Regions from separate parts of the Homo sapiens genome. Here regions 2, 3, 4, 5 and 6 are each linked to region 1. Evidence: fine-mapped expression QTL. A gene starts in region 1. Each other region holds a variant in brackets. All regions are shown on one strand. Distances are between the middles of the regions.

Region 1 (5,078 bases):
AAGAAAAGTACTTTTCTTAAGCTACTGTCAGTTCCTTTACTTAAGATTATTCTGAAATGAACCCATCCTTCCCTCTAATGGAAAGATAGGTACATAATAAGATAAGCACTTTTTTTATTTGAACAAATCCAGTATTAGAGTAGTCTTTTGCAGCTAGTGAATCATGACAGCCTGCTAAGAAGAATGCCTTCAGTAAAATAAAGTTAGGTTGGGACTGACCAACATGAATGCATAAAGTTAACTCCATTAAAAAAAATTGACCAGGAAAATAAAACAATGCTAAGCCAACCACTGTAATACCAAAAACGCTGCTAAAAAATTTAGATTGCTTCTGAGTAACCAAAGGTGAACCACTCTCCACCCTGTGGTGAACATGTGACACTCTCCCTAACAGCAGCTCTGTGGGGAGGGCTTGCTCCCACTGAGAATTAATTCACTTTCCAGAAGTGAGAGATAAGGAAAAATTCCCATGACAATAATCCATTTGGTGAACTGCAGTTTGGTGGTGTTTGAAGTTTTACGCATATTTAAGAATCAAACATGCTCTTACTTCATCCCTGTTAGGAAAGCCACAATCCAGTTTCACGGAAAATGAAAGACAAGGATTCCTGCTGATCAAATCGCCTGGCTCCCTCCACAGAATCCCGGGAAGCCACTCTACATTCACAAACTTTGCACTCAATTCTTGGCACCTATCAACGCCATATCTCCAGGGCCAAGTGAAGAGTCTCATAGCAACTAAGTTAATATTTGAAAATTATGTAAAGAAACAAAATTACATCAATGGGCCCCAACAGATACAATGCACCTACAGAGGCACAAATAAAAGCTTCTTCTTTGCTACAAACTCCATTTTGTAATGGTCCTAAAAATTTAAAAACTTTATTGCTGCTTTCTTGCCTAAGAATTCCCTGTGACATCAACCCAAAACCCACATAAGCAGAAGTACACAATTTTCTAGAATCTTAGAACAAGTAAGTCTAAACATGAATCATATTTGTTTGGATGAAATTGACTGAAATAAATAGTAAAGAGTGATTTTGAGATACATATTGCAAAAATGTCCACTAATAACTTATCCTTGTATTTATCTGTATATTTTCAAAGGTAAGTAATGTGATGTCAAGGCCGACACAATCACATTAAACTGTGTCCTGCTTCCCCAACTGTAACTCTAATACTATTGCCCTCAGAGATTGCAGAGACCACAGAACCGAACTCCTTCCCACAAACCCCCGGATTTTTCTGTGGCAAAATCCCTTGTAGGAAATGAATTCTCTCTATATCTCAAAACAGCCTCACTTACCCAGTAGGCCCTGTAAGCACAGTGTCTCAGGTCCACAATACTTTTAGATGCCCAGGAAAATGTTTCCTTTTAAAATAAGAACAAAAAAGAAAAAAATTAGGTGTTGGTTAAAGAAAATGTTTAAATATATAATATTAAGATATTTATCTTTATGTCAGTGTTGGTATAAATGCGTGTTTATGAAAAAGGGACCCACCAAGGTGAAATGCCGTAGGACCCACAAATGTCATAATGCTGGCTGGCCTCAAAATGTCCTTCCTATTAAACTATTTTGAATGATTCCTAGGTATGCCAGATGCCAATTTTTCTTGGCCAGCCAGGGAACGTCTCATGTCTTTGGAAGAAATTATCTTTCTCTTACTGGATTCTTCTGAGAAAAGTGATTTGTTAAAAGTTTTGGTTATTTCAAATCAATATGTACTCAACTAGGACGTCTCCTCACCCACGTTAATTTTTTAAAGAGGAGGAAAGTAGGAGAAGATGAGCGCTTCATGTAAGGCTCTGCCAGCCTACGAGGAAATGCAATCCTCCAGGCTCGCCCGAGCGTGGGCTGCGGGCAGGGGACTGTGGGGCCGTTGTCTCGTTTTATTCCACGGCCGTGCAGCAGAGGGCGCGTGCCTCTCAGCACTCATGCTGCGCGCTCCCCTGCGCCTCTAGGATCGTATCCCTATTTGCCCCAAGGTCATAGCTCCTAACCCAGCTTGCCAGCCCCAGGCCGGGGACACCAGAGACTGAGCCCTTCGCGCTGGAGACCCCGGCGCGGGTGGGGCGGGAGGGCTCCGGGGCCAAGAGACAGGTCACAATGGGGACAGGGGACGAAAGGCGCCGGGGGTCCGGGTCCCGAGCAGTCCCCGCCGCCGCCAGACTCCGCAGCCGGGAGGGGGATGGGGTGCGCGTAGAGGCTCCGCGGCCCGGGTTGGACGGAGGAGCCCAGGAGCCACCGCAGCCGCCGCACGCCCAGAGCTCCGAGCTTCGCTGCCAGCCCAGGACACCGGGGCCCTGCCGTGGGCCGAGGGGAGCCGGGCGGCGGGAGAGGAGCCCCGGAGCCCCGGAGCCCCGGAGCCCCGCCGGGCGCCAGCCGAGAGGGCGTTTTCCCCGCCCCCGGAGACTCGCCCGCCCGGCCCGCCCCGCCCCGAGCGCGGGGAGTTCACCTCCGCCCGTCACCACCTCCCCTTGTCGCCTAGGTCCACCCGAGCCCCCTCCCCCGGGCCGCCCCCGAGCACGAAGTTGGCGGGAGCCTATAAAAGCTGGTGCCGGCGCGACCCGCGGACACACAGTGCAGGCGCCCAAGCCGCCGCCGCCAGATCGGTGCCGATTCCTGCCCTGCCCCGACCGCCAGCGCGACCATGTCCCATCACTGGGGGTACGGCAAACACAACGGTGAGTGCCGGCGACGGCCAGCGCGGGGGCGCCCCGATCCCCGATCCCCGATCCCCGATCCCCGAGCCCGGATGCCGGCCCGGGGCCCGCAGCGCCCGCACATGCTGTTTACCGCGGCCGCGGGGAGTGCTGGAGGCTCAGGTGCGCCCCGGGCGCTCGCTCCGCTCGCGGCTCCGCGGCGCCGGGGATGTCCCCCTTGCCCCAGCTGCGAGGCCACTGTGGAGGAATCCCCGCGTCCGCCGGAGGCGCGTAGGGCCCGAGGGAGGGGAGGCGCAGCCCTGGCCGCGGGACCCGAGGACAGTCCCTCCCGGGTCCCGACCTGGGGATCATTTTAACCGGACCTAGGAGGAGGCGGGAAAGGGTTGTAACGGAAAATTCTAGTTGTTGATCGCAGAGAAATTAAGAGACTCCCCTCCCCCCTCCCCCACCTTCCACCCCCACCCCACCCCTCCAGCTTCAGCACCACCTGTGGCTAAGGCGCTCAGCACGAACTGTCCCGGGGCATTTTCCAGTGCTGGTTTGAATCCATGGCTCTGATTTCCGAGTTTTCCCTTCATCTCTCGACTTCTAATGTTAGGGGGTCGGACATCAGGAATCGGGTTTTATCTTGGCCTCAGATCTGGTTCTTCGGAGCCAGCGGAGCAGAGGAGCATGCGTCTGGCGCACCTAGCGCATCTTTGGAGGGTGTGGGGCTTCCCAGGTAGTGGGGAACCCTGACGGTTAAAGGTGGGGTGGGCCCGGGCCTGGGCAGTGAGGAAAGGATCCAGACCTCCTTGAATGTCTTAAGTGAGCTTGCATATCCCAAAATCGCAACCACAAGCCCTGACATTAGTGTCTGCCCGATTTCAGTTGCTGAATTTCAGTAAAACGACCTTAAAATAGCTAATATTTATATAGCACTCAGTGATCTAAGAGCTTTACATATATCGATTCTAATTCTTACAGCGACATCTATGAGGTAGATTTCTAATTATCCCATATTACAAATGTGGAAACTGAGGCACAGATTACGTGTTTTCCCAAAATTTAGCCCATTGTTAAGTGATGCTTCTAAAATTGGAACTGAGCAGATTGGCTCCGGAATGATTGCTCTTCTCTAGGGGTCTGGGTGTACCTTTCCCCACAATGGGGGATTCACATGTCTTCTTTCCCCCAGGACCTGAGCACTGGCATAAGGACTTCCCCATTGCCAAGGGAGAGCGCCAGTCCCCTGTTGACATCGACACTCATACAGCCAAGTATGACCCTTCCCTGAAGCCCCTGTCTGTTTCCTATGATCAAGCAACTTCCCTGAGGATCCTCAACAATGGTCATGCTTTCAACGTGGAGTTTGATGACTCTCAGGACAAAGCAGGTCAGTGTTTAGAAAATAACTTGTGTCTTTTAGCCAGTAGCTGTTTTCCGAGCTTAATGGAAGGAGCCAGGAACAGTGGCAGGAACCCTCTTAATAATACAGTTTGTCTCAGGACTCAAGGATGCCACCCTGATCATTTTCATTAGGTCTCAGATTCTGAGAAGTAGGCTAATTAGTTTGAAGTGTCCCGGGGCCGTTTCTTCCCTGTAAAACCCTTGGCTTCTATGAAGGCCATTGAATAACTGCGATATGCCTGTGAAAAATCACAAAAGGTGCAAAGTCCCCTCGCAATAAAGATCAGTCACGATGAGATTTGCACCAATTGAACTTTTAAGATTGTAAAATATTTTGTCTTGCAGAGCTGATGCATATCCATTAAAAAGTATATCTTAGTGAGCCTTATCTTCAAGTTAGCAGCGAGAAGAGTAACAAAAACGTGCCAATTTAAAATACTGAAATTCTGGGAAAATGTTTTACTTATGAGTATTTCTTAGTATTGGGCTAGTGTGATAAAGATGGCAGCATGTTTTGATATCTACTCAGAAATTCATTTCACAAACGAAGATGTTTTAGAGTTGGTGAACATACCTGGCCCATTACTGACAAAACCAATTACCGTATTTATTGGTAATAGAGCTGTTTACAGGATGCTCACTGTAAAAAAAAAAAAAAAAAGAAAGAGAAAGAAGAAAAAAAATCCTGCTTTTTTTTTTTTATCTCTCTCTCTTTTGAAACAAGAGAACAATCCCATTCACACATAGTAGCTGCCTTCTTTGCTAAGCAGTTAATTTAATTGCCAGTGCCCTATTTTCCTGAGTGCTTTCCTCTGAAGGTCATAGAATGAAATGGTGCTGCAAACACATTTTGTTTGGTGGTGGTGTGGGAGTGAGGGGAGTGGTGGAACAAAATGAGAAAGTTTTGGAGTAGTGACCTACGGTACTAATATATTATATAATATGTAATTATAACCATTTAGTCAGGTAGACTATTCTTTGTCAGCAGCTATCCTATATAGTCAACTTGGTTTTGAAAAAAGAA
Region 2 (5,078 bases), 56 kb after region 1:
GGCGTTTTCCATTCTACCTGTGTGATAGTAAGCATCTTACCCCATGAGTCTCAATTGCCCATCTATAAAATAGAAACAGTAATAATACTTTCCTCACCACATTGTTATGAAGAGCAAATGAGATACCATAGGAAGAACTTGGTGCAGTGGCTGGCATGTAGTAGGTTTTTTTTTTTTTTTTTTTGAGTTAGATTCTCATTCTTTCACCCAGGCCAGAGTGCAGTGGCAGGATCATGGCTTACTGCAGCCTCAATCTTCCAGGCTCAGGTGATCCTTGTACCTCGGCTTCCCAAAGTGCTGGGATTACAGGCATGAGCCACTGTGCCCAGCCTGTAGTAGCTTTTCAATAAATGTTTGTGGAATCTGAATCTGAATCGTATAATTTTTCCTATTATTCTTAGACTAAGATTGGAGAATTAGGGCCAAGTGTGGTGGCTCATGCCTGTAATCCCAGCATTTTGGGAGGCCAGGGTAGGAGGATGGCTTGAGCCCAGGAGTTCGAGAGTAGCCTGGGCAACATAGCAAAACTTCTTCTCTACAAGAAGTACAAAAAATTAGCTGGGCGTGGTGGCCCACGTTGGTAGTCACAGCCACTCGGGAGACTGAGGTGGGAGGATCGCTTCAGCTGGGGACGTCGCTGCTGCAGTGAGCCGTGATTACACCACTGCACTCCAGCCTGGGCAACAGAGTTAGGACCCTGTCTCCAAACAAAAACAAAACACAGCAAAACAAAAAACAAAGATTGGAGAACTTTAAAAAAATATTGCGTACTTTAAATCTGAAAGTTCTTTCATAGCCTTATTATAAATATGCATTGTTAGAGACAGATGCAAACCGTTTTTATTTTTTTTTGTACAAGGCATATAAGAAAGAATAAGAATAAATTGTAACTTGAATTACAACATTCAAGACAAACTATTCTTAAATGTATTGGAAAGAATTACGTATTCCCTGGGTTCTTAAAAAGGGTACAGTTTTTCAACTCTTTTTTTCTGTTATGCATTGCATTGGGTTACGATCAGAGCAATTTAAATGATGCAGTCACATTTTCTATTTAAAGTAATAAGGTTCAAATCTCTTAGAAATAAAGCAAAGCAATATAGCCATACTGCTGGTAATAACACTGATCAATTTGATCTTACAAATATGAAACGAGTATGCCAGCATATCATGTAGCATGTGCCAACAATTCTGTAGTTATATATAAATTTGTACTGTTATTTGTTTTAAATTTATGCTCCTGTCTGTTTCTGAAAGGACTTGAGACAGTGTATAAATATACGCATGGTTTAAATTTACAATGATACACACTCATAACATAACTCAATAAATCCCACAAGAAACCTAAGTAACTTTTGTCTATCAGTTTCTGGGAAAGGTCTGCTTGTTTTCTTGAGGGAAAAAATAGACTCAACTTCTTCTTATTCATTGTTGTTTCCTTGGAGCTCTCTTAGGGAACCTATAGCTATCTGGGTTGTGGCTCACCAACCCATGTGATATGAGAGAGCAGAGGACTTTTATTAAACTCACATGTACTGTTGAAATCTTGACGGGGTACATTGTTAACATGGATCTGATATCAGTGAATAATATTTTAGGATTATAGATCTGGAATAGGTATATTTAAGAAATAGATCTAGAATCCTATACTTGCCTAGAAGTAAGTTGCCACCATAACTTTTATGGCAGAAAATGACACTCCAAATGATGATTTTCCATTTTCCTTTTGGTAAAATGCTTTTACTAAATAAAAGCAGAATTGTGCATCTTTCATTCATTACTTCAGCCATTTATTAAACAACTCTTTATTGGATATTTAGTACATGCAGAGCAACGGGAAACACACTGAGGATGTAAAGATGAGTACAACACCATCCCTGGCCTCAGGGAGTATTTTATGTGGTTGGGAATGAGGATGTAAATGGACATTTAAAACATAACCTACTCACAGCCAGGCGCGGTGGCTCACGCCTGTAATTCCAGCACTTTGGGAGGCTGAGGTGGGTGGATCACGAGGTCAAGAGATCGAGACCGTCCTGGCCAACATGGTGAAATCCTGTCTCAACTAAAAATACAAAAAATTAGCTGGGAGTGGTGCTGCATGCCTGTAGTCCCAGCTACTCGGGAGGCTGAGGTAGGAGAATCGCTTGAACCCAGGAAGCAGAGGTTGCAGTGAGCCGAGATCGCGCCACTGCACTCCAGCCTGGTGACAGAGCGAGACTCTGTCTCAAAAAACAAACCAACAAACAAACATAACCTGCTCAGTTCTGTGAGAGCAGAGGAGGAGCACTTCATACAGATGACGACTCAGGGCCCCTAAATGAAGGAATATCTGAAGAATAAATAGACGGTGTGATTAGTTTTCACCCAAAAGGGGCATTCTGGACAGTCATTCCAGTTCATGCAACAAGTTCAACATATTATGATGGCAGACAGAGAAATTGGAGTCAGTTTTGAAATGTTCACCTAAGTCATGCTAAAGTGATGGCTGTTACCCTGAAGTCA[A/G]TGAGGAACCTCTGCAGGATTTCAACATGTTTAAAATTGAGTTTTATAAATATTTTCCCCGACTAAAGGTAGATAGTATGCAAAAATATACTGGTGTTGGGACAGTCAATCACAGAGCTGCAAGGGGGAAATAACAGAAATCCTAAATAAAATAATGCTGCAGAGGTGAAGATTTATTAAACTCGATTCTACTGTATGGGAAACAAATCTAAGATTATTCATTAGGCAAAAGCACAAAAGAAGATTACATTCCTTTACATTGCTTCTCATTTTGTGAGATTGCTCTCCTGTCATTAACGCCGTCACGGCCTAAACTCAACAATTATCAGACAAAAAGGAGTTCCTGTTTTGTCCTTTTCAGGTATTATTTCACAGCTTTGCTCTCTTGTTAACCTAAGCACTATGGCTCTGAAAAACCAAAACCATTAATGCTTTTTTTTTACTGAATTCCCACGAGGCACTGAAAGATGTGATGCTCTGAAAAACTATGACAGGAAGTCACTAAAGACCATATTTTTGCTTAAGAAATTAGGACTAAATCTAATAATTATGATTAAAAATAGAAAAACCATAAAGAGATATATGGTGTTAGGAAAGAGAGTGATCTTGTAGTTAACTTCAAACTAATGACCAATTTATGCATATAATTATTTTCAGCTCTTAATAATGTTCTCAAAAGTTGAGGAGTTACTGAAACAAATGGACAAAATGCTGATAATTATGGAAACTGGATGGTGTATAAATGAGGGTTCACTATACTATTTTTTCTACTTTTGGAAGTGTTTGAACTTTTCCATAAAATGAAGTTTTAAAAAAGTATTTTGATAATATTGTGTGGTGAGTATCCATAACTGGAAAATAAAATTTATTTTAATTTGATTATATTACTTGATCAATTTATTTAGCTTCTGGATTTTTGAGTCTGTGAAATTTACTTGGTAAGCTTCCATTATAAGACTCTATCTAAGGTCTTAAAAACACTCCCCAAAATCTCTTCCTACAGAAAGTAATTTACAGTAAGGATACAGTGAGCTTCAATTTAAGATGATAATACAAAACATAATCATTTTCTGTCTTAGTAACTTGCTTGAAGCGAAGTCTTTTGTGGATGAGATAGTCATTGACTTAGTGGAAAACACCATTTTACATTTACATATTTATTTAAGTTCCAACTTGTTTCAAATTATTTGATGTGGCCCATGATATATACTAGAGTAATCTCTTATCCTAGAAGAAATGTATTTCCCAAAATAAAATAATTGAACCCTAGAGAATAATTTTCACAAATAACTAAACATATAATTGCATTTCACATTTTGCTTACTAATGAAATTTTCAAAATGGTAAAGATTTACTTCTAATGTTTTTTAGGTCAAAAAGGCTTACAGAAAAATTCAAAATGAAAGTTGGTTTAATTAAGATCAAGAAGGAGAAGATGGTGTGAATTAAATTTTTTGTCAGAAAACATTTCAAATACAAACTAAATGACCTAAGAATTGTAGACTCAGTAGTAGATAATATAAATGACCATCCCGAAACAGATTCTGCAAGTGGTAAGCCTTGTTGTACACTGGAAGAGAGAGATAAATGACAAGCCACCTTCTTCTTGAGGCCTGGAAGATTCAAACAGCAGTTCCCCATTTTCCAAATTTATTATCAGGAATAAAAGCAATATTGAAATAATGCCCAAGCCATATTTAAAAAAGATCTCAGCACTGATGATAAATTGATCAGGCTTCGAATAAATTGTGAGAATTTTTGTTTGGCATTCAGAAAGCATTTCTTATAGAAACAATTTTTCATATGGTGGTTTGGACCCCGGAAAAACCCACAAACCTCTTTAGCATGTTGTATGTTTGCAGTATATACGGACAATGCTAAAGGTGTACAATGCCACTGTACTGCAATACTCTCCTTTTACCCTAGGAGTAAAGCTCAAATCCCTTGCCCTATCCCATGATGTCCTTCATGAGGCATCCTCTGCCTCCTTGCAGACCTCACCTCACACCACTCTCCCCTAACTGTCTGTGCTCCAGTCACACTGGTCTTCCACAAGATTCTTGAATAAGTCAGACTTATTCTCACCTTAAGGCATTTGCCTAAGTTGTTTTCTCACTTAGAATGCAGTTCTCTGACTCCTTCTCCTCCAGACATTAAGAAAAATGTCACTGGGTGCACCTGCTTAGTAGACTCAGCCTAGCTACTGACACCTACTGAAACCTACTCTGACACCCAGTGTAGATTAGCCACCTAATCATTCTATTAAACATGTTATCATGTTTCCATTCTTTGCATAGCTCAAAAAAAAAAACCTACCACCTGATATTCTCTTGTTAATTTCCTTGTGCATTCTATGTGTCCCCAGCTAATAGGTAAGTTTCATAAGAGGGAAAGTCTTGTTCAACATTGCCTTCAATAGCCTGAAACAGTGACTGGAAATAGAAGATCTTCAACGCATGAGTGAATGAATTAAAGAATAACTCTACAGGACTACTGTATGCAGTAATAGAGACTCTAGCTGACGTCACTGGAATATTTGCTCAGATTTATGCCTCAAGGAGATAGGTGTACAT
Region 3 (5,078 bases), 480 kb after region 1:
CTGATTAATAAAAAGAATTAGCCAAGCATATCAGATTAGTACAGCACCGGAAGCCCATTGGCAGATTTGTAAGATTCTGAATAAGGAATCATCAATTATGACCTAGTCTATTAGGGAATCTCTGTGAAAAGAATTAAGGCCTATATGATAAAATATATTTCTAAATGTTCATTGATCAACATACAGAAGTCTGCTACATTAACAATATATTCAAGTTAGCCAACTCTTAAGGTTTCTCCATCTTCCAGAGAGTGACAATTGAATTTTGTGTCTATGAATCATTCTATGATTATGAATTAGTTTTGCATTTATTTTAATTTTGTAATGTGTTAATGTTTCAAAGCAAGAACTTTAACATGTAACAGGAGCTCTTCAGAATTACCTCATGAAGACTATTTTGGTTAATACTAATAAAGTCTGATATTTCGAAGATAGTTTCTCATCAACTGGCAGGCCTCATATTTCACAATTTCATGTTGACATATTGACTTTTATGTCTTAGTAGAGCTACAAATGCCAGTAAATGTGGCATCTGAAATAGAGGAAAGATTCTGTCTATTAAAATTCTTTGAATTTTTTTAAACATATAATGTTGGGAGTAGCAGGAAATAAGGAAAATCATAATTTCCAAATGATTTATCTTTAAATTCATCAATTCCAAATGATATATTTAAAAATAAATCATTTGGAAATGATGATTTTCCTTATTTATTGTCTCTTCCCTCACCAGAAACATGACTTGAATGGTCTTCTTTTCCAGGAAACAGATATAGAACTTTACATATATGGCATTCATAAGTTTCAGTGATTTGTCTTATTTCACTCTTCATTATAAGCAGAGATTCTCTCAACATTTGAACATATTTTGCTTTAAATTTTGTATTCATGATGAAAATTTGAAAGCTTTATTTCTCCTAATGTTTATTTTACTTATATTTCAAGTAAGAATCATGCCTATTAAATTTGTCTACCACTAGTTGACATACTTCAGCAGATGAGACTCTGCTATGATCCCATTGATCCCCAAATGGGAGTGGAAGACCAACTCTTGTTTCTCTGCAGCCTGTATTCTGGTCTCTATTAGCTATCAAAAATGTCTGTGCCTATTTCAAACTTAACATGTCCCAGCAATGATGTAGTTGATAAGTTTTCAAATAAACCATGAAATCATTATCTCTCTTCTTATCATAAAATTCCTTGTCTTTTCAACCATAGTTGTAAGTTGAAGAGGAGATTATAGAAAATAACTAGTCAAATTAATACTTTAAGAAATACTTTATTATTACTATTAACCAAATTAATCTTTGGGAGATAATTCTGAAGAACTTCTGTTATATGCTGAAGTAGCTTTAAAGTTTTACTTCATTACAACATTAAAATAAATGGGAAACTGCAGAGTGATTCATAGACACAAAATTCAATTATGACTTTCTATAAGATTGACAAACCTGAAGATTTGGCTAACTTGAACATATTGCTAACGTAGAAGCCTTCTGTATGTTAATCAACGAAACTTAGGAGTATATGTAATCACATTAGGACTTCATAGAAAATAATTAAGTCATCATTTCCCAGCTCCCCTTTGAAGACATTATATAAGTGACGATCTGTAGGTGTCCATGAATTTCACATGCTTTGAGATTCGTAAGAGTCCACTAAGGATGATGTTGAAAGCTGACAATTGTACTGGGGTGACTCAGTCTAGCCAGAGTTTTGATGCTGCAAAGTTGTATCTCAGAAAAGGAAATAAGTGCCTCACACCTCAAGTCAAACTTGTTTTACTTGTGCTCTACTTCCATGTTCAAAGATGTGTTCAATCATTTCTACTAGTTAATTTCTAAGTTATTATTTCTATAATAACAACAAAGAACAGAGGATTTCTTTTTCCAATAAATGGCAAATTAGATTCAGGCTAAATTTCTACCAAAAAAATTAAAAGACTATGTAAGATTTTAAAGAATATTATCAAAAGAATAAAATATTTAATGAAAAAGTAAGAGACTGCCAATCCAAAACCTAAAAACAAATGGGAATTCAGAGAAATAAATGGAACATTGAAGCTTCTTCTGCCTCAGGGGCATTTGCTGAACCCAGTATATTTGAATTTATGGTATTAGGTAGACGGAAGTTAAGCCCCAGAGTTCACCCAAGGTGGTAAACTGAC[T/G]GTGAGAGCTTCCCCACATCGAATTGCATGCCAGAAGGTTACATCTCATGGTAAAAGCAAAGCAAAACAAAACAAAACAAAACAAAAACAAACTATAAATAAGCATTCTACTCTCTGCCTCACACACACACACTCCTCAGGGGAACCTAGGAAAATTCTCATGGCACTGAGTAAACAGGAAAAGAGATAAGGCATAAAAAGTCCCTGAGATGTTATGGTCACCACAGCCATGTCCTGGTGCAGGAAGGCACCTTAATGCTAGGTCTTAAATAATCATAAAAAGTGATTAAGTAATTCAATTAAAAATTAGTCATTGAATAATCCACAATGAAAATTAACAAAATATACCAGAAGACAAGGCACCATGAAAAACAATCAGCAGAAACATTAAATCACCGAAACAAATCCCAAAATACTTAATTAACATTATCCAAACTATGAAAAAAAGTATTCCTACTCTGTTTAAAGATATAGAAGACAACTTAATCTGCAAAGAAATGAAACTATAAAAACAGGCATAACAGATTTGAAAAAGAGACAAATAATATAAAAGAAACAAAAAAATTTGAAAGGCAAATATAAAAAGTCAGGTGAGGGATTAAAGAACAAACTAGATACAGCTGAAGAAGATTTAGTGAATTGAAAGGTAAAAAATTAACCAGAATGCAGCACTGAGACAAGAAGATGGAGAACATGGCAGTTAACCAAGAGACATGAAGGATAAAGAGAAGGGCTAACATACTCTTAATCAAAGTTATGCAAGAAGACAAACTCAAGAAGAGTGAAGAAAACAAAGGCAAAAATTAAAGAGATAATAGCTGATAATTTTTCAGAACTCAGAGAAAACAGATTCAATAAAGGAAATTGCATTTAGATGTGTCATGGTGAAACTGCAAAACACCAAAGAAAAATGCAGCAATTTTCAAGCAGCCACGGGGAAAAAGCAGATCACCAAAAGAATGGCAAAGAGGTGTTTTAAGCACAATAATAGAACATGAAAGCCAGTAGAATGATCATTTCTATGTGCAGAAATACAATAATTGCCAATTTATGATTATATATCCATAAAAAATATCTTTGAAGAATTTGAATTGGCCAGGTGCTGTGCCTTACACCTGTAATCCCAGCATTTTGGAAGGCCGAGGTGGAAGGATCAGTTGAGCCCAAGAGTTCTAGACCAGCTTGGGTGACATACTGAGACCCCACCTCTACAAAAAAATAAGAAAATTAGCTGGGCATGGTGGCACACACTTGTAGTCCCAGCTACTTCGGAGGCTGAGGTGGGAGGATTGCTTGAGCCCAAGAGGTCAAAGCTGCAGTAAGCCATGATCATGCCACTACACTCCAGGCTTAGCAACAGAGCAAGACCCTGTCTCAAAAAAAAAAAAAAAAATAGAATTTGAATGCACTAAATACTTGTTATGAGACAAGCATTGTCAGAGTTGTTTTAAAGAAAGTGATATGTGCTTTACATAAAGATAAGTCTAAAGAAAATGATAGAAGTATATTATGCAATTCTAACAAACAACAAGGCAGACACAGCTATATAAACATTAGATAAAACTGGCTCTTAAGCAAAAAGCATTACCAAAGATAAAGTAATTTCATATAAATAACAGGTTCAATATTTTACAAAAATGAAACACTTTAAATTTATAAGCAAATAATAACATAACCTCAAAATATGAAAATCAAAAATTGACAGAAACACAAAGAGGAATAGATAAATATACAACCACATATTTTTGCTGTTGTCGCTAATGAGTTTGCTCTCCCCAACATTGACGAGGTATAATTTTCTTACAATAAACTGCATTCTTCATAGTGTGCAATTCAATGACTTTTAAATTTTATTATTTATTATTTTTTTGAGACAGAGTCTCACTCTATTGCCCAGGCTAGAGTGCCGTGGTGCAATCTTGGCTCACTGCAACCTCTGCCTCCAGGGTTCAAGCAATTCTCCTGCCTCAGTCTCCCGAGTAGCTAGGATTACAAACCTGCACCACCACGCCTGGCTAATTTTTGTGTTTTTAGTAGAGATGGGGTTTCACCATGTTGGCTAGGCTGGTCTCGAACTCTTGACCTCAGGTGACCTGCCTGCTTCGTCCTTTCAAAGTGCTGGGATTACAGTCATGAGTCATGGTGCCTGGCCGAATTCAATGAATTTTTAACAGATAGATACAGGATATCCTATCTCCCCCAAAACTTTTTTTATGCCTCTTTACGGTCCATTACTTTTTTCACTCTCAGCCTCAGGCAATCACTAATCTAATTATTTTTTTGTCACTATAGATTAGTTTGCATTTTCTAGAACTTTATGTAATTATTAGGTTGGTGCAAAAGCCATTGCGGTTTTTGCCTTTCAAAGTAATGGCAAAACCATGATTACTTTTGCACCAACTCAATAAATCATACAGTATGCACAGCTTTGTGCCTGGCTTCTTTCAGTCAGCATAAGGATTTCAAGAGCCATATATATTATTGTACATATCAGTAGGTATTTCTTTCATTTTGCTGAAAGGTATATTCCTTCGTATGGATGTACCGCAATTTGTTCATGCATTTGTCAGTTGATAGACATTTGGGCTATTTCCAGTTTTTTGCTATTGTGAATAAAGCTGCTGCAGACATTTGTATACAAGTCTTTGTGCCCCCTCTTCAGTAAACACGTAAGAGTAGAATGGCTGGGTCATATGGCAAGGGAATGTTTAATGTTTTATGGAACTTCCAGTTTTAATAAGTCACTCTATTATGTTGCATTCTCATAAGCAAATTATGGGAGTTCTAGTTGCATTATATTCTTAGATATTCTGATGTATTCTTATTCTAATTTTAGCTACACTAATCTTTATTAATATTTAATAAACACTTATGTATTCTAGATACAAATCTGTTGTCAGACTCATGTGTTGTA
Region 4 (5,078 bases), 510 kb after region 1:
AAAATAAGCAATGTTGTTTTAAAAAGACCTAAGATCAAATCAGAGATACTAAATCCAAGACCACTCAACAACTTAGGTTGTGTGAAGCATCTTATTAATAGGTCTCACTCATTTGACCTGGGAAGTCAATGAAATAGGCAGCAGAAATTAAAAAGATGTCATCCAGACCTTGGAAGATAAGGCATCCAGTGGATTTTATGCCATCAAATACCACCCATTTCCTTTAGGGTTCGAAGGTTTCACAACTACGTGACTTCCTTTTAACCAACAGTAAGCAAGAGACTAGCTATCTTATCTAAGCGCTCAATCACTGGGGCTGTTCTTTTTCCTCCGCGTAAGAATAGGCTGCAGGAAATAGGTGAAAGGAAATAATTCCATATTAGCATACCCTAAGGAGCATTTTAGGAAAGCTCACAGAAATTTCTTTTGCTCTCCATAGGCTGACAACTGCAAGCCTTATCTACTAGATGATTTTTTCAAGAATTGGTGTGTTAGGTGTTTCCTTGACTAGCCAGTGTTTTGTGTGTTTGTTTTTTAGTTATATTTTCCTTATGCAAGTAATTTTGAATTGTCATCATTATTTGTTACTAACTCCTAATCAATGGCATTATAATAAAGTTATGATGGACACAGTGAGCTAATTACCTGGTTTAATACCCAGCACTGTAGACATCAATCTTCTGCATTTTGGAGGATCTGAGTGAGTTATAGTGATATGTGATCCCAAGAGACTGCAAGCTAAGAAAAAACCTTCCATTTTTGGCCATGTCATAGAACCCAGCACTTATTTTTTTCTCAGAAAAGGGAGCATTTCTAACATAGCCAGATTCACTGGATGATGTGCCCTGGCTCTTGGAACACTCATTTTCATTTATAGACCAAGTTTATTTCTTTGAAGATTTAAGATACAGAAGTGGCTCTACAGAGCATCTAAAGATCCTCTTTTTCCTTTGACTTCTATCTGCAACACCCAGGTACCTGGTGCTGAAACTATTCAGTGCTAACTGAAACCTTACATAATCTTTTTCATTTTTCCTGAAACATCAGCTTTAAAAGGACATACAGAGCCTATTATTGACCATTTTTCTTGGAAATAAAGCATTTATTCTGATATAAAATGACTGATGACACTACAATCAAATGTTCTTTGTATTTTCAGTTAAGGATTGATTCCTTTCTGGGACTAAAACTCTTTTCAGAGAAATGAATAACCATTTATGCACCATTTACATATCCTAAAAACTTGTACTGAATATTTTCTATCTTCTGTACTAAATTATAGATTATCCAGCACAACTCAGGGCTGGCATATTTACTGACCCATTTATGAAGGGATTGAGATGAGGTTGACGATTAATTAATTGGGAGATGGCTCTATTCAATCTTTAGAGGTACTAAATACAAATAGTTATCAAATAGATTTACCTGAGAAAAAAAGTTAAGAAAAGAACTTCTCATATGGTGAAAAGTAATACATTAATCTAGAAATGCACATTAGTACCTATAATCACATCACCATCTTTTGCCTCAAAACAGGTTCTACATGAGTTGAGAAAAATACAATGTATGGTAGTACTCTCTTGTGCAGTACCTAATTCCAATTACCACCTCATCCTTGTACATAAATGAAGTTTTGTTTTCTTACCCTTTCAGCAAACATAATAATGTTTCCACATAATCCTGATTCTGGAAACAGAACATAACTCTCTTTTAGACTCAAACAGGAGAGTGTATATGTACATATGTGTGTTTCTGGGTATAAGCACTCATACTGTTCTCTTTTTCTTTAGAGATCATAAAGAAGTCTGCAAAGAGTTTTTGGTGATCTATTTCATTTTGTAGAGGAAGACATGAAAGTTCAAATACAATAAATGACTATTGGTTTTAAAATTTATTCTCAAGGGATTTCCCAGAATTTTCTGGTCCTATTCATTGAACTATCTGGAATTTTAGAATATCATAATAATTGGTTGTATGATTACTAGAAAGTGGTAACTGGCTATTCATGACCATTTTATTACAAACTAATTGAGGAAAATTAGGAAGAAATAACAATTTGCAGATTCTGGCTTGTTCTAGAAAACACACATTAAAATTAAAGGACACACTTATTTGGCTCATTGGAATTGGTTCCTCAATATCTTTTTCAAAATGCCACTCCTGGCTGCAACTATGGGTAACACAGTTTTCTGAGAAAACAAACTCTCAGACAGCTTTTGACTATGATTCAAATTTTCTTTAACTCATATTAAGTAGCTATTAGTGTTTATTCTGAGAGGAAAAAAAAGATGGAACTCGAAACCCAGGCTCCAATAGTTAGCAAGTCACTGTTTAGGGTGTTACTATCTTCAACTGAGTCCAAATTCCACATTCACCTTTCTCTGCTCAATTTCTCTTCTTCTTGTTTTAGGGTAATTCCTCTCAAGTAGAGATTGGGGGTATTTGTGTAACCCATGCACCATCTAGTGGGAACAGATGGAAAATCCATCTAGAAAAATAACTTGTGATAGCCCTCCTGAGGCCACTGGCGAAGTATAGTTCTTTGCCTTAGAGACTATGCTTAATAAGATACACTATTT[CTT/C]TTTTTTTTTTTTTTTTTTTGACAGTGATCAGAATGAGACATTTTATTTTATTTTATTTTATTTTATTTTTATTATTATTATACTTTAAGTTTTAGGGTACATTTGCACAATGTGCAGGTTTGTTACATATGTATACATGTGCCACGTTGGTGTGCTGCACCCATTAACTTGTCATTTAGCATTAGGTATATCTCCTAATGCTCTCCCTCCCCGCTCCCCCCACCCAACAACAGTCCCCGGAGTGTGATGTTCCCCTTCCTGTGTCCATGAGATACACCATTTCTTTTAAAGAATTAAACTATTAGAAATTATTTTTGATAACCTTGGAATTCTTGTTCATACTTATCAAATAGATTTTCTATGGCAAGAATTAGTGTCCCTTTATATGTTGGAATTCACTGGGGATAATTCCTATTGTGTTTTAAGTCAGTTAGTAATCACTGCTCATTTATACCCTTGCCAGAGCTAGTGTGGTTCAGGGATTAATGCTTGGACTATGGGGTCAAACTAGCTGGGATCAAATTTATGGCTTTGTTTCCTATTACCTAAAAGAGCTCTGGCAAAATCACCTACCCCTCTGGCGTTCTGTAAACCTTTTCTGTAAAAAGGAGTTAAAATTTTAAAAACTGCATGTTAAGCACTTACAAAAATACTCAACACATATTAACTCTTCAATAAATGTTAGGAATTATTAATGATTATGAAACAAGATTACGTTATTATGATTACAGAAAAACATGTAACACTTTTATATCTACTCAGTTCTCCATCAAGCCAATGTAAAAAGCTGAAGCTTGTTCCACTAATACCACAGGCCTGTAATTAGCTATGGTTGGCTGCTCCCAGAATAGATAGAATTGACAGTCCCATGGGAATTTCAAAGGGTCAACATGGGCCACTGGAGCCTACTTATGACTCAACAGCAGTGCCTCTTTCAGACAATGGATATGGAGGGGGTGTTGGCAGAATGGAATTTCTGTCCCCAGTGGAGGTGGACCCAAAACATCTCCTCTTTCAATCTTTTAATGGATATTGGCCCATTCTTGAATTTTTCACCAAACAATTTTTCTGCTTCATGCTGGTCTTTCTTCAGCCAGTCCACTGTTCATTAGCTGGACAGCAAACAAGGGAGAGTGATGTTAAAATACATTCTAATTTGCTTCATTATCCTGGTTTCATAAGAAGTCAGAGGGAAGGAAATATTCATCACTGTTGAAATCACCATGCGTTGCACAAGGCTTCTTGAGAAAGAGATGTACAGTATATAAGAGCTGATTGATGGAAGGTTAAAGGAGCAGAATGCAGGTGCTACTAAAAGAATTAAGACACAGGACTGATGACTCAGGGAAAGGTACCCAGGCAGTTACAGGGAACATGTGAGCACTGACTGCCTGGGCATGAAAGACCTTGGCAAACTCTGTTATATTTTATCTCAGCCTGAGGCTGGCCATTGATAAATTGTGTCTAAAACATACTCTCAGTGTCCATGACTACCCTCCACTACAAACGACATTGGCTCCTTGCCCTCCTGTTTATTAAAAAAAAATTATTGAGCATCTGCTTCATAACCATCAGTAAGTGATGTCTTCATACATAGAGAGTAGTGAGCTACTAGTAATAAGTCAATGACCAACTTTCTTCTGTTCACTTTCTTAGTTGAAATATTATCTATGCATTTCACCTACTATGTACTAAAAACATCTGTGAATAACTCATTGGGATTCAGTGACCCAGATGGACAAAGTGCCGGCTCTCAAAAAGCTTAGATTCTAGTGGTGGGAAATAAAATAAACATGAAAAACAAACAAGAAAAGGACTAGATAGAGTGTTAGTACTTTGAGTTGGGTGGTCAGGAACTAACTCTCTGAGAAATGCAAATTTACTCTCAGATCTGAACAGTAAGTTTAGCCAGTCATATAAATATTCTTCCAGCAGAAGGAACAGCTAGTGCAGGAGAAGGAAACATATTTGACATGCATAAGAAATAGAATTCTCCAGTTGAACATGTTCTCCATTTCACCTCCTGGATTTTCTACCGGTTTTCCATAAGATGGGACGATTTTCAGCTAGCATTCTCTTGCAAGTTGGATAATTTCCTGCCCTGTTCTGAAAATGACACCAAAAAGAGTCCAAGTAAGACCTTTCTCAAAATTGCTTTATATCCAGAGCAATAGCCTAGAAAAAGCATGTCATTTCTTTAACAAAGTGTTGGGGGTTTGTTAAGGTTCCATTCATGCTGAACACTTTATACGCATGACCTCATTTAGGCTTCACATCACTCTTATGATAAGGGAAAAATATTATCTTGCTATTATAGATAACTACAGCACACAGTTAGTAAGTGGTAAAGCTAAGATTCAAACTCAGGTTTCTCTGGAGCTTCCTCAAAGAATGCAGAAGCAGAGGAGCCTATGAGTAGAAATGACACTACTCAGAAGCAAGCTTCTACTTCTGCATACTGTGCAAGTGACTAAGAGGTTAATGGAATCTCCAGCT
Region 5 (5,078 bases), 87 kb after region 1:
TTTTAGACAGGTCTATGTGGTCTTCAATTCACATCATTCTGGCAGAGAGACTATATGTGTGCTGCCTGTTTTTGCTTTCTGACCTGGAGTTCTGCAGATCCCAGGAGCTGGCAGGATCTTGCTTGGTTGTTGCATATGTGCAGCTTAGAACCTTGGGGGAAGTTAATACCCCTGAGGGCTACTCTTAGCCAATGAGGCCAGAAGCTGATGGAAAGTTCTCCATTTTCTGTCCCTCAGGTAGGAATTCTGGGAGGCATCCAGGACACTTTTTATGAGGTCCTTACAAAATTAAGCCCCAATGTCATAGCATTGGCATTCCTTAACACATACTTCTGTTGACTATTTCTCCTTCCCTGGCTCAAAATCCTCCCCACTCCTGCTCCCTGGGATCACCTCCCAAGTAAATTACCTGCACACAAATCCTTTATCAGATTCTGTTTTGAGGAGAACCCAACTAAGATAACAAGTAAGGGTTGTCTAAAAACTTATACACAAGTAACATTCTAATGAAATTTAACCGTGCTATACTGTGTATAAAATCATAAGTATGTTAAGTGGGACCCTAGAATGTATATCTTGCTGGGCAAAAAATAAATTAAAACTTCTAAATATGAATCAAACTTGAATGCATTATTCAAGCTTATAATATGAATTCACCTCTAACACCACCAATTCCTGGCTGTATGATACTAATCAAGGTTTTCAATATCATGGAGACTCTAATTTGATTATCTCTGTATAATCAAAGGTGTATCTCTGTATAATCAATCTAAGGGTGATAATATCTACCACACAGATTATGGATTAGGGATTATGAAATACCCTGTAAATCGTGATGAGAAGTTTCGATTATATCCTGAAGGCAACGGAGACTAGTAAATGGGTAGCACTGAAGAATAAATGATTAGATTCACATGTTAGAAGGATGGCTGACAATAAAGTAGAGAACAGATATCAGGGAGCCAAGAACAGGAAACTCTGAGGTTGTCATCAAGCAAGTGAGAGATGATGATGGTGACCTGAATCGGAGGAGTCAGGGTAGGCATGGTGAGAAGTGGGCAGATTTGACTGAGAACCTTATTTACCAAGTTGATGTTGGGAACAAAAACAGGGGAACCAAGATGGCATCCACATTTCTGTCTTGGGCCCCTGCGTGGATGGATGGATTTGCTGCATGAATGTGGAGCCATTCCCTGAGGGAAGAACACAGAAGGAGATAAGAAGGCTTGGTGAAGTGTGGTGACCTTGGGTCTATGCTTATTGAGTTGTAACACTTTGAAGTCAAGAAATACAATTGTGAGAGGGTGGGGCCAGACAAGTTTCTTTTGGGAAGTGACAGCTAAGATGTGACCTGATGAGTGAATAGGGATAACCCTGATGAAGATGAGAGCAAGTGTGGAAATAAACTTCCTTATGATCCAGCAATTCCACCTCTGGGTATTTATTAAAAAAAATTGACATCAGGATCTTGAAAGATATTTGCACTACTAAGTTCATGGCAGCATTATCCACAATAGCCAAGGGTGGAAACAACCTTAATGTCTACTGAAGGATGAGTAAATAAACAAAATATGATATATATCAAAAAATGGAATATTATTAAGCCTTAAAGAAAGAATGAAATCCTGCCATATGTGTCAATGAGGGCATTGTGCTAAGTGAAATAAGCCAGTGTGAAAGACAAATACTTCATTATTCCAGTTAGATCAGCTATCTAAAGTAGTCAAACTCATAGAAAAAGTTGAATGATAGTGGCCAGGGGCTGGGAGGAGGAGGAAATGAGTTACTTATCAATGGGCATAAAGTCTTAGTCTGGCAAGATGAATAAAGCTCTAGAGATCAGCTATAGAACATTGCACCTGTAGATAACAATACTGTATTGTGCACTCAAAAATTTATTTAAAGGGTAGAGCTCATGTTAAATGTTACCACAATTATAGAAAGAAATGAAGGTCAGTAAGGACAACAGGGTGCATACGCAGGGAATAAGGAAGTGGCTCATTATAATGCAAAAGAACTAAAGGCTGGCTGACTTTCAAAATTGCTAAGAAATATCCTTCATCCTTAACATGAAAGCAGGAGACTTAGCTTTGTGATGCTATCTGCATTTTTTTTTCCAATAATCTTGAATAAGTTATTTTCCCTAGACCCAGACTATTCTTTCCTGCCTTAACTGCTTTAAAAATATTCTTCACTCCCCAAACACCAGCACTGTAGTCCTCTTTCATGCCTTTCACTTCATAGCACTATTAAGCTGCCAAATACAGGCTACTGAGATGGAAATGGTATTCAGAATATTATCCAGTGACAAAAACAGTGACGTCCTTTACCTAGAAATTTTATTAGGAATTACATACCAACTGGAGTTCAGGTGTGGAACACTGAGAGACATCATCTTTGAATTAAAATTAGAGTTTGGTTTTGAAGTGGCTCTGTTGTTTAAAAACCACATCCTTTCAGAAGGACTCAGAGAAGCCCAAAAGCTTTTACCATTTTTTTCACTAACATAAAATATTTATAACACAGTCATTTATTTGGATCTCATTTTATTATGCTGCCCACATTGTTGATACCTATTGTAGACATTCAAGCATGTTTGACCCTTGGCTACTTAATAAATCAGGTAATAATGACAGGACACTGCAGTTAAGTTGTTAGAACAAATGCAGTCAGACAGACACTTAAGAGAGGGAGTAAAAGAAATCTCTTAGGTGGCAAAACTGCATGATGAGCTAAAGATTAGTTACCTGAAAAAGATTTGCT[G/A]ATAAGGCAAAGCATCTGGGATTCTTGTTCCCTGTTGTCTTAAATCTGCTACAAGTACTGTGGGATGCTGACATTTGATCTTTTGAGCTGGAGAGCATTAATATGCTAAGGCTTGAGAATCTGCATTGAATTTTACCCTAAACAAGCACTGCGTTGGAATTTTTTGTTGTTTTTATACTTAAAGATATTTAAACATTATGCATATACACACACATACATACACAGACATATATAGGTATATACACACATAAATATACACATACATAAACATGCATATACATACACATGCATACATAACCATATGCATACATATGGTTCCATGATTTCCAGGCAAACACCTGAAGTGGCTTCGACATATTTCAATAATATAGAACATTTTAATGCTAACTAATTTTAATGCAAGTTGATTTTTAAAAAGCTATTTGAGCTAATTGCTAGTCTGGGAATTTCTTAAAAATAATATGAACAATTCCAAGAGATCAAATTTAAAATTTAGAACCCCAACACATTTTTTAAAGGCATTATAATTTCTGATTCATAGGAATATTGTCAAGTTACAAACAAACTTTGTTTGGTTGACTTAAGTATGTAGTGTGATCTCTTGGCGTTTCTTATTTGCTTGTCCTATCTAGGTTTCCAAAGAGTTCCTTGATTTTGTCAATATTGGCACAGTCTGAAAGGTCATCCTGATACACTGCAGGTTTCATTACTGCTTGAGCTTGCTATTGTGAAATACATTTTCGTCCAGTAAAGGGTTTCAGATGGACACGTTTTCTATACATTTCACCATATTCCAACATATTCTGGCATAATTAAAATTATGTGGTGTCCTGAGGTGTAATTACATCTCACAGGATCACTGGTTTTTGTTGTTGTTGCTGTATTTTTAAAAACAATTTTGTTGGTGGTCAAAAGCTTTCTTATTTAAATAAAATATGTTTAGTAAGGATGCTTGTTCTTGACTCAACCCTCAATCCTCCCGGTCTTCCAAGGTAGTAAATGTTTTAAAGAGTGATTGTCTTACAGATTTTCATCTACTCAGTTATTATTTCCAAAGAACAAAATCTGATCCTGCAAGATTCCAAAATCTCCCTTTTCCCTTAGGAAACACCTTGGAGATGCATGGGCATCACATTAAGCTGCTTAGCATGTGTCTTGGGGATAGACAGAGATGTGCTTATTAGAGATACTGAAGATATTACACATAAAAAGGAGAAAATGGAATAAAATAAATGAGAGAATGAGATGTAGAGTTTATAATTAGAAATGGAAAAGAATTTAAAAATTGAAGACCATTCATTTAAGAAATATGTATTTTGTGTCTCCAGCTCGTAAGCATTCTCTTAGACGCCGGAGACACAAAACTGACACAAATCCCTGCCCTCTAGGTATGGTTAGGCTTAATGATATTTGTTCAGGCAGGACTGCGCCTCTCCTTTCTTGATTTTTTTATAGGGCTGTATCATTATATTTTTTATGCTTTCCACTTGCTGTAGTCAACATTTAAATCAGTAAAAGGCAACTTGGCCTGGGACAAAAGGTAATAGTTGTTTAACCTAAAATTCCTATCAAATTATTCAACAAAGTAGCACATATATTTGCAAGAGGAGCAGTGGCTTTATCTTGGAATATTTTTAAATAAACAGGGTGTCTGCACCAGTACTCTAGATTTTGAGGTTTATTATTAATAAGAATAAATATTTGAGTGTCAGTGTGTGGTCATTTGTATATCTGCAGAAGTTAGCATTTAAATGTAGCAGCTTGTTTTGTTGTTGGTTGGATAGTACACTCAGGCATGAGTATATATACATTATACAGTCCTGCCTCAGGCAGGACTGGAGACACATGATTCTAGAACAACATTTAGCCATTAGTACCTCATTAATCAAAGAAATGAGTTGCACACTTTGGGCCTCCTCTCAGCCCACTAGATCTATCTACCTACCAGATTCTAGATTCAACTAATTTCAAATTTTTTAAATTTTAGATATAATTTGTTCCAGAGGCTAGGCTATTGAAAATATATTTCTAATCCTAGGACTTGGATAACTTTCCCCTAAGGACAGGACATCTATATTAGTTCATTTTGTGTTGCTATAAAGGAACACCTGAGGCTGAATGATTTATTTTAAAAAAGAGATTTTTTGACTCATGGTTTTGCAGGCTGTACAAGCCTGGTGCTTGGAGCTGCTCAGCTTCTGGTGAGGCCACAGGAAGCTTACAATCATGGTGGAAGACAAAGGGGGAGTAGGCCTGTTACACAGCGAGAGAGGGGCAATTCATGAGGCACCAAGTTATTCATGAGGTATCCATCA
Region 6 (5,078 bases), 400 kb after region 1:
TTAAAAGCACTTTATGGGGCCTTCATGGCAATATTATCATTCAAGGGCATCCTTAAAAGTTAAACTTTTACTAGAAAACTATATAAATAAAGATGGGATCATTAAATGTTTTAAAGTACAAATTAACTAGCAAGATTTAAAAAATTTTTTAAATCGACCTAGGAATTCAGAAGTGGAACAGTAATCTACTTTAAATTGTTTTTTGGGGAAAAAAAAGTGTGATGTTAATGAATAAACATGCATTTAAAAAAAAATTCCAAGTACTATTAAATAGGCTGTACATGAAATCATGAAAGCAATTCTAAAAGAGAAACATTCCAAAAAATCTACATGTTTTAATATATTGTTAAGTTTCCATTATATGGTTTACCTTCCCTGTGGATCAGCAATAGACAAGTTGAAATCCTGAGCTGACTTTCTCATTCCCAACCCATATGCAGCCCACTTCCAGCTGTCTTTTCCATTTTACCTCCTGGTATGTGCCCTAGGGCCATAACCCGGCTTTAATGCCACCCAAGACACGTCTACTGATTTAAACAACAACCATCAACACCAACAAACATAACACGTAACCCCAAGATGTTACCCTTATTTCCCTAGATCAGGGCAATCACAGGGAAATATAAAGGGCTTTGTTAACAACCATAGTGGTATTAGCTGCAGCCCCACTGACTTTCATTATTTTGAGTTTAGATCCCATCATTTGAATATGTCCTCTAAATACATGTGTTGAAAACTTAACCCCCAATGCAGCAGTGTTGGGAAGTAATTGGGTCTGTAGGGGCAGAGGACTCATGAATAGATCAAGTTGGTACTGGAGGTGGCTAGGTATTGCAAGAGTGGATTGTTATGCAAGGGAGTCCACCCTTCATGCTCTTTCTGTCTTGCATGCTCACTTCTGCCCTTCCACATGGGATGAACCTTGCCAGATGCTGGTGCCATGCTTTTAGACTTCCCATTCTTCAGAACTGTGAGCCACATTCATGTATTTTCTTTATAATTACCCAGTCTGTGGTATTTGGCTATAGCAACACAAAATAAGACCAAGACATTTCTCCTGCACCACTCAGCCTGCCTCACTCAATGCTCAGTATAATGCTCAAGTATAAGCTTTCTTAAGATATGAAGTTCAAGTGTTAAATAATGTCAGATACCTCACTTAACACACAGTAATATACATTTTATGAGTATCATTATTTAATCATTTATTCACATATTCCAACAGACCACAGGTATAGCTATTGATTTTCTTCTTCAGTCCCAGCGTTCAGTAAATTTATTCATTTGATAAATACTCAGCTAGTCCCAGGCACCTTGGTAAGACAAATATTTACTCTGGTGACTCTGCCAATGATCAAAATATTTTCAGAACTTTTTTTTATTTGTTTTTTGGGGTCAGAAGTGTGTCAATTATATAACACCTTACATTCATGGAGCCAGTGCACAAACATTGTCACATTGTCTAATCTAGTCCTTATACTAATCAGGGGATTATCACAATTCATATACCAGGAGCACACTGCTAACTGTATCCCGCTCAATATATACTTGAAAGAATGACTTCTAAACACATTTGACAGCCGAAAATGGAGACTGGAGGGAAGTGAGTGACTCTGTTCACAAAGTCAACATCCAAGATGTAAGAACACAAACTTTCAACTTCTGACCCACAATTATTTTTTTCTTCAATACACCAGTATCTTCAACAGTGACAAATCGTTACCTTGAGGGAAGACTTGATATGTGAAAAACTCTCAAAATTCATCAAGAGTTAATTATAAGTATGGTGGGGAACCAAACTCGAAAATAGCAGGAAGATTGTATTGTTTTGTTTTGTTTTGTTATGTTTTTAATAAAATTGAGGCATTGATACTCAGGTAACAAACGAGCCATATTTTCTTGAGTGGCTTATGAAGTGGCTCTGTAGACAGTTCTGGGAAACTAGTTCTAAATATTTGTGTGCAGTGTCAGCTTCTCTAAAAGAAGCATGCAGGACTGTTTTAGAGGAGCAGGATGTTCTGTCAGAATGGCAAAGGGATCACAGTGAGTTTCATGAGTCTTGGTCTGTGGTCCAGGCTTGATCCTTCAAAAAGCATACACAGGACTCTTTGCATTTGTTGTTTACTTTAAAAAACATTAAGTAGAGCATGGGACCTGAGGTTTAACAACTATACAAACAAATATATATTTTTAAAACATTAAGCAAACCAATACAACTTATAATCAAACAAATCCAGACTCAATCCAGAACAAGGAATAAGAGTTGCATTATTCACCTAGAAACTCTGCCC[C/T]GGCCTTCCCTTTCACTGGATTGTAACGGAAGCAAGGAATGAGGCAGCTTAGTCTAGCCAGAGGTAATGCCACATAGAAGCCTGTCTAGTTTCTTTAAAGACCTTAAAGAAAATGGAATAAGCAACTGGGGCAAAAAGCACTGGTTGTGGTTTCCAGATAAGGGCTGCAGCCCTCTATCCTATCTGTGATGAGGCCAAGGAGAGAATGGTGCATACATTAAAACCCAGAGGTATCTGAGCTTTGATATCCTTGTGGAGCTGGCTGATCAGACTGAGCCATTTCACCCTCAGGGGTAAACACAATATGCAGATCGTATTTCCAGAGCATAGGAATGTTCAAATTCATAGACTTTTCTTTCTTAATTCTAACTTTTATGTTCATGGCTAAAATCTGACATACTCTCAAGGTTTTTACATCCCATAACTATCAAATAACACGAGCAATCTATGAACTGGCCATTTTACAGGGGGAAGGAAATCGCTTCTGGAAATATAAAAAATAATCTTTGACTCTTGGCATGTTAGTGTTCATTTGTTTTTTTCCTCAGGTCCTGTATTGGGAAGCTCTGTAACAGTGAACTTTCACATAACGATGGGGTTGTTAGAGGTTACACAGAGATAGTCGAGTGGCAGATAAATCACTGGGCCAGATTTTATCATCTCTGATCTGAGAAACTCAGAGAAGGAACAAGCATTTCTCAATATCAAGGCTGATACTGAAGAAAACGGAAGGATAACACAAAGCTAGATAAATACACAATAATAGTTATCATCTGGCAAAGCAGACTTTGTAGAGCCATGACCATGAAAACAAAGCAGCTCTTGAAAGTTAGGCTAAAGATAGATTAACACAGATCAAAGTAGGCTTAATTAAGAGCACTACCATGAAGAGTTAATTTGAGGACTAATTGAAAACTAGAGATGTTGAAGAGCCCAGATTAGCTCTATGAAAATCAGAGAAGACAACATAAGTTTCTTTTTTTTTTTTTTTTTACCTTGAAGTTAGTTTTTTATTTACAGAATACACCCTTATCCAAAATGTATCAACATGAGGCAGAGTGCTGTGGCTCACGCCTGTAATCTGAGCACTTTGGGAGGCCGAGGAGGGCTGGTCATTTGAGCCCAGGTCATTTGAGCCCAGGAGTTCAAGACAAGCCTGGGCAACGTGGCGAAACCCTGTCTCTACCAAAAACACAAAAAATTAGCTGGACATGGTGGCTCGTGCCTGTAGTCCTGTAGTCTCAGCTACTCGGGGAGCTGAAGTGGGAGGATTGCTCGAACCTGGGAAGTCAAGGCTGTAGTGAGCCATGATCACACCACCACACTCCATCCCGAGTGACAGTGCAAGATCCTGTCTCAGGAAAAAAAAATAGTATCATCATGCATGGTAAATGGAAACTTACAAATATTACCTAGTTAGGTTGGTCAGGATGTCTAAACTATCTTTGCAAATGATAATTGCTAACATTATTGAGTACTGTGATGTGCCACATGGATATATTTTCATCTCGTATAATACTCATAAAAGCTCAATGTGGTTTTAGTTACTCTTATTATTCCCATTTTAAACATGTGAAAACTGAGGCTCAGAAAGCTTAAGTAACTTCCCCAGTGTTCTAGTTATCCATTGCTACAAAACAAATCGGACAAATTTTTTTTTTAAATTATACTTTAAGTTCTAGGGTACATGTGTACAATGTGCAGGTTTGTTACATAGGTATACATGTGCCATGTTGGTGTGCTGCACCCATTAACTCGTCGTTTACATTAGGTATATCTCCTAATGCTATCCCTCATCCCTCCTCCCACCCCCTGACAGGTCCCGGGGTGTGATGTTCCCCTTCCTGTGTCCAAGTGTTCTCATTGTTCAATTCCCACCTATGAGTGAGAACATGCAGTGTTTGGTTTTCTGTCCTTGCAATAGTTTGCTGAGAATGATGGTTACAGCTTCATCCATGTTGCTACAAAGGACATGAAATCATCCTTTTTTATAGCTGCATAGTATTCCATGGTGTATATGTGCCACATTTTCTTAATCCAGTCTATCATTGATGGACATTTGGGTTGATTCCAAGTCTTTGCTATTGTGAATAGTGCTGCAATAAACATACGTGTGCATGTGTCCTTCTACCAGCATGATTTATAATCCTTTGGGTATATACCCAGTAATGGGATGGCTGGGTCAAATGGTATTTCTACTTCCAGATCCTTGAGGAATCACCACACTGTCTTCCACAATGGTTCAATAGTTGAACTAGTTTACAGTCCCACCAACAGTGTAAAAGTGTTCCTATTTCTCCACATCCTCTCCAGCACCTGTTGTTTCCTGACTTTTTAATGATCCCCATTCTAACTGGTGTGAGATGGTATCTCACTGTGGTTTTGATTTGCATTTCTCTGATGGCCAGTGATGATGAGCATTTTTTCATGTATGTGTTGACTGCATAAATGTCTTCTTTTGAGAAGTGTCTCTTCATCTTCTTCGCCTACTTGTTGATGGGGTTTTTTGATTTTTTCTTGTAAATTTGTTTGAGTTCTTTGTAGATTCGGGATATTAGCCCTTTGTCAGATGAGTAGATTGCAAAAATTTTCTCCCATTCTATAGGTTACCTGTTCACTCCGATGGTAGTTTCTTTTGCTGTGCAGAAGCTCTTTAGTTTAATTAGATCCCACTTGTCAATTTTGGCTTTTGTTGCCATTGCTTTCAGTGTTTTAGACATGAAACACTTGCCCATGCCTATGTCCTGAATGGTATTGCCTAGGCTTTCTTCTAGGGTTTTTATGGTT

Direction of the effects. Alleles are on the strand shown, and positions count from the first base shown. SD is a standard deviation of normalised expression in the study named. Not every link is listed here.
For the expression in prefrontal cortex of the gene that starts at base 2,578 in region 1, CTT is the high allele of the variant in region 4 and C is the other (moderate effect, 0.42 SD a copy in ROSMAP).

Evidence for each region. PIP is the estimated chance that this variant, and not a neighbour inherited with it, causes the effect.
Region 2: its variant is fine-mapped to the expression of CA2 in whole blood (TOPMed, PIP 0.91).
Region 3: its variant is fine-mapped to the expression of CA2 in whole blood (TOPMed, PIP 0.91).
Region 4: its variant is fine-mapped to the expression of CA2 in prefrontal cortex (ROSMAP, PIP 0.95).
Region 5: its variant is fine-mapped to the expression of CA2 in whole blood (TOPMed, PIP 0.92).
Region 6: its variant is fine-mapped to the expression of CA2 in whole blood (INTERVAL, PIP 0.94).

The regions. Positions count from the first base shown.
Region 1 is chr8:85,461,430-85,466,507 of GRCh38, forward strand. It overlaps CA2 (carbonic anhydrase 2), which reads left to right and starts at 2,578. Exons shown (of 7, transcript NM_000067.3): 1 at 2,578-2,686; 2 at 3,843-4,040. The coding sequence starts at 2,653. It overlaps CA3-AS1 (CA3 antisense RNA 1), which reads right to left and starts at 3,486. Exons shown (of 3, transcript NR_121630.1): 1 at 3,153-3,486; 2 at 1,307-1,372. RefSeq lists enhancers at 91-786, 2,687-3,186 and silencers at 1,814-2,073, 2,144-2,463, 2,574-3,043.
Region 2 is chr8:85,517,668-85,522,745 of GRCh38, forward strand. All of the region lies in intron 3 of LOC105375937 (a long non-coding RNA gene), which reads left to right. Among named protein-coding and RNA genes, the nearest start is that of CA3-AS1, 55 kb to the left of the region's middle. The variant A/G (reference allele first, on the strand shown) is at 2,506.
Region 3 is chr8:85,942,532-85,947,609 of GRCh38, forward strand. No RefSeq gene overlaps it. Among named protein-coding and RNA genes, the nearest start is that of LINC02849, 90 kb to the left of the region's middle. The variant T/G (reference allele first, on the strand shown) is at 2,165.
Region 4 is chr8:85,971,102-85,976,179 of GRCh38, forward strand. LOC107986954 (a long non-coding RNA gene) reads right to left here. Exons shown (of 4, transcript XR_001745984.1): 4 at 2,692-4,688. Among named protein-coding and RNA genes, the nearest start is that of PSKH2, 96 kb to the right of the region's middle. RefSeq lists a silencer at 245-445. The variant CTT/C (reference allele first, on the strand shown) is at 2,580.
Region 5 is chr8:85,548,599-85,553,676 of GRCh38, forward strand. No RefSeq gene overlaps it. Among named protein-coding and RNA genes, the nearest start is that of CA3-AS1, 86 kb to the left of the region's middle. The variant G/A (reference allele first, on the strand shown) is at 2,764.
Region 6 is chr8:85,864,344-85,869,421 of GRCh38, forward strand. No RefSeq gene overlaps it. Among named protein-coding and RNA genes, the nearest start is that of LINC02849, 12 kb to the left of the region's middle. The variant C/T (reference allele first, on the strand shown) is at 2,292.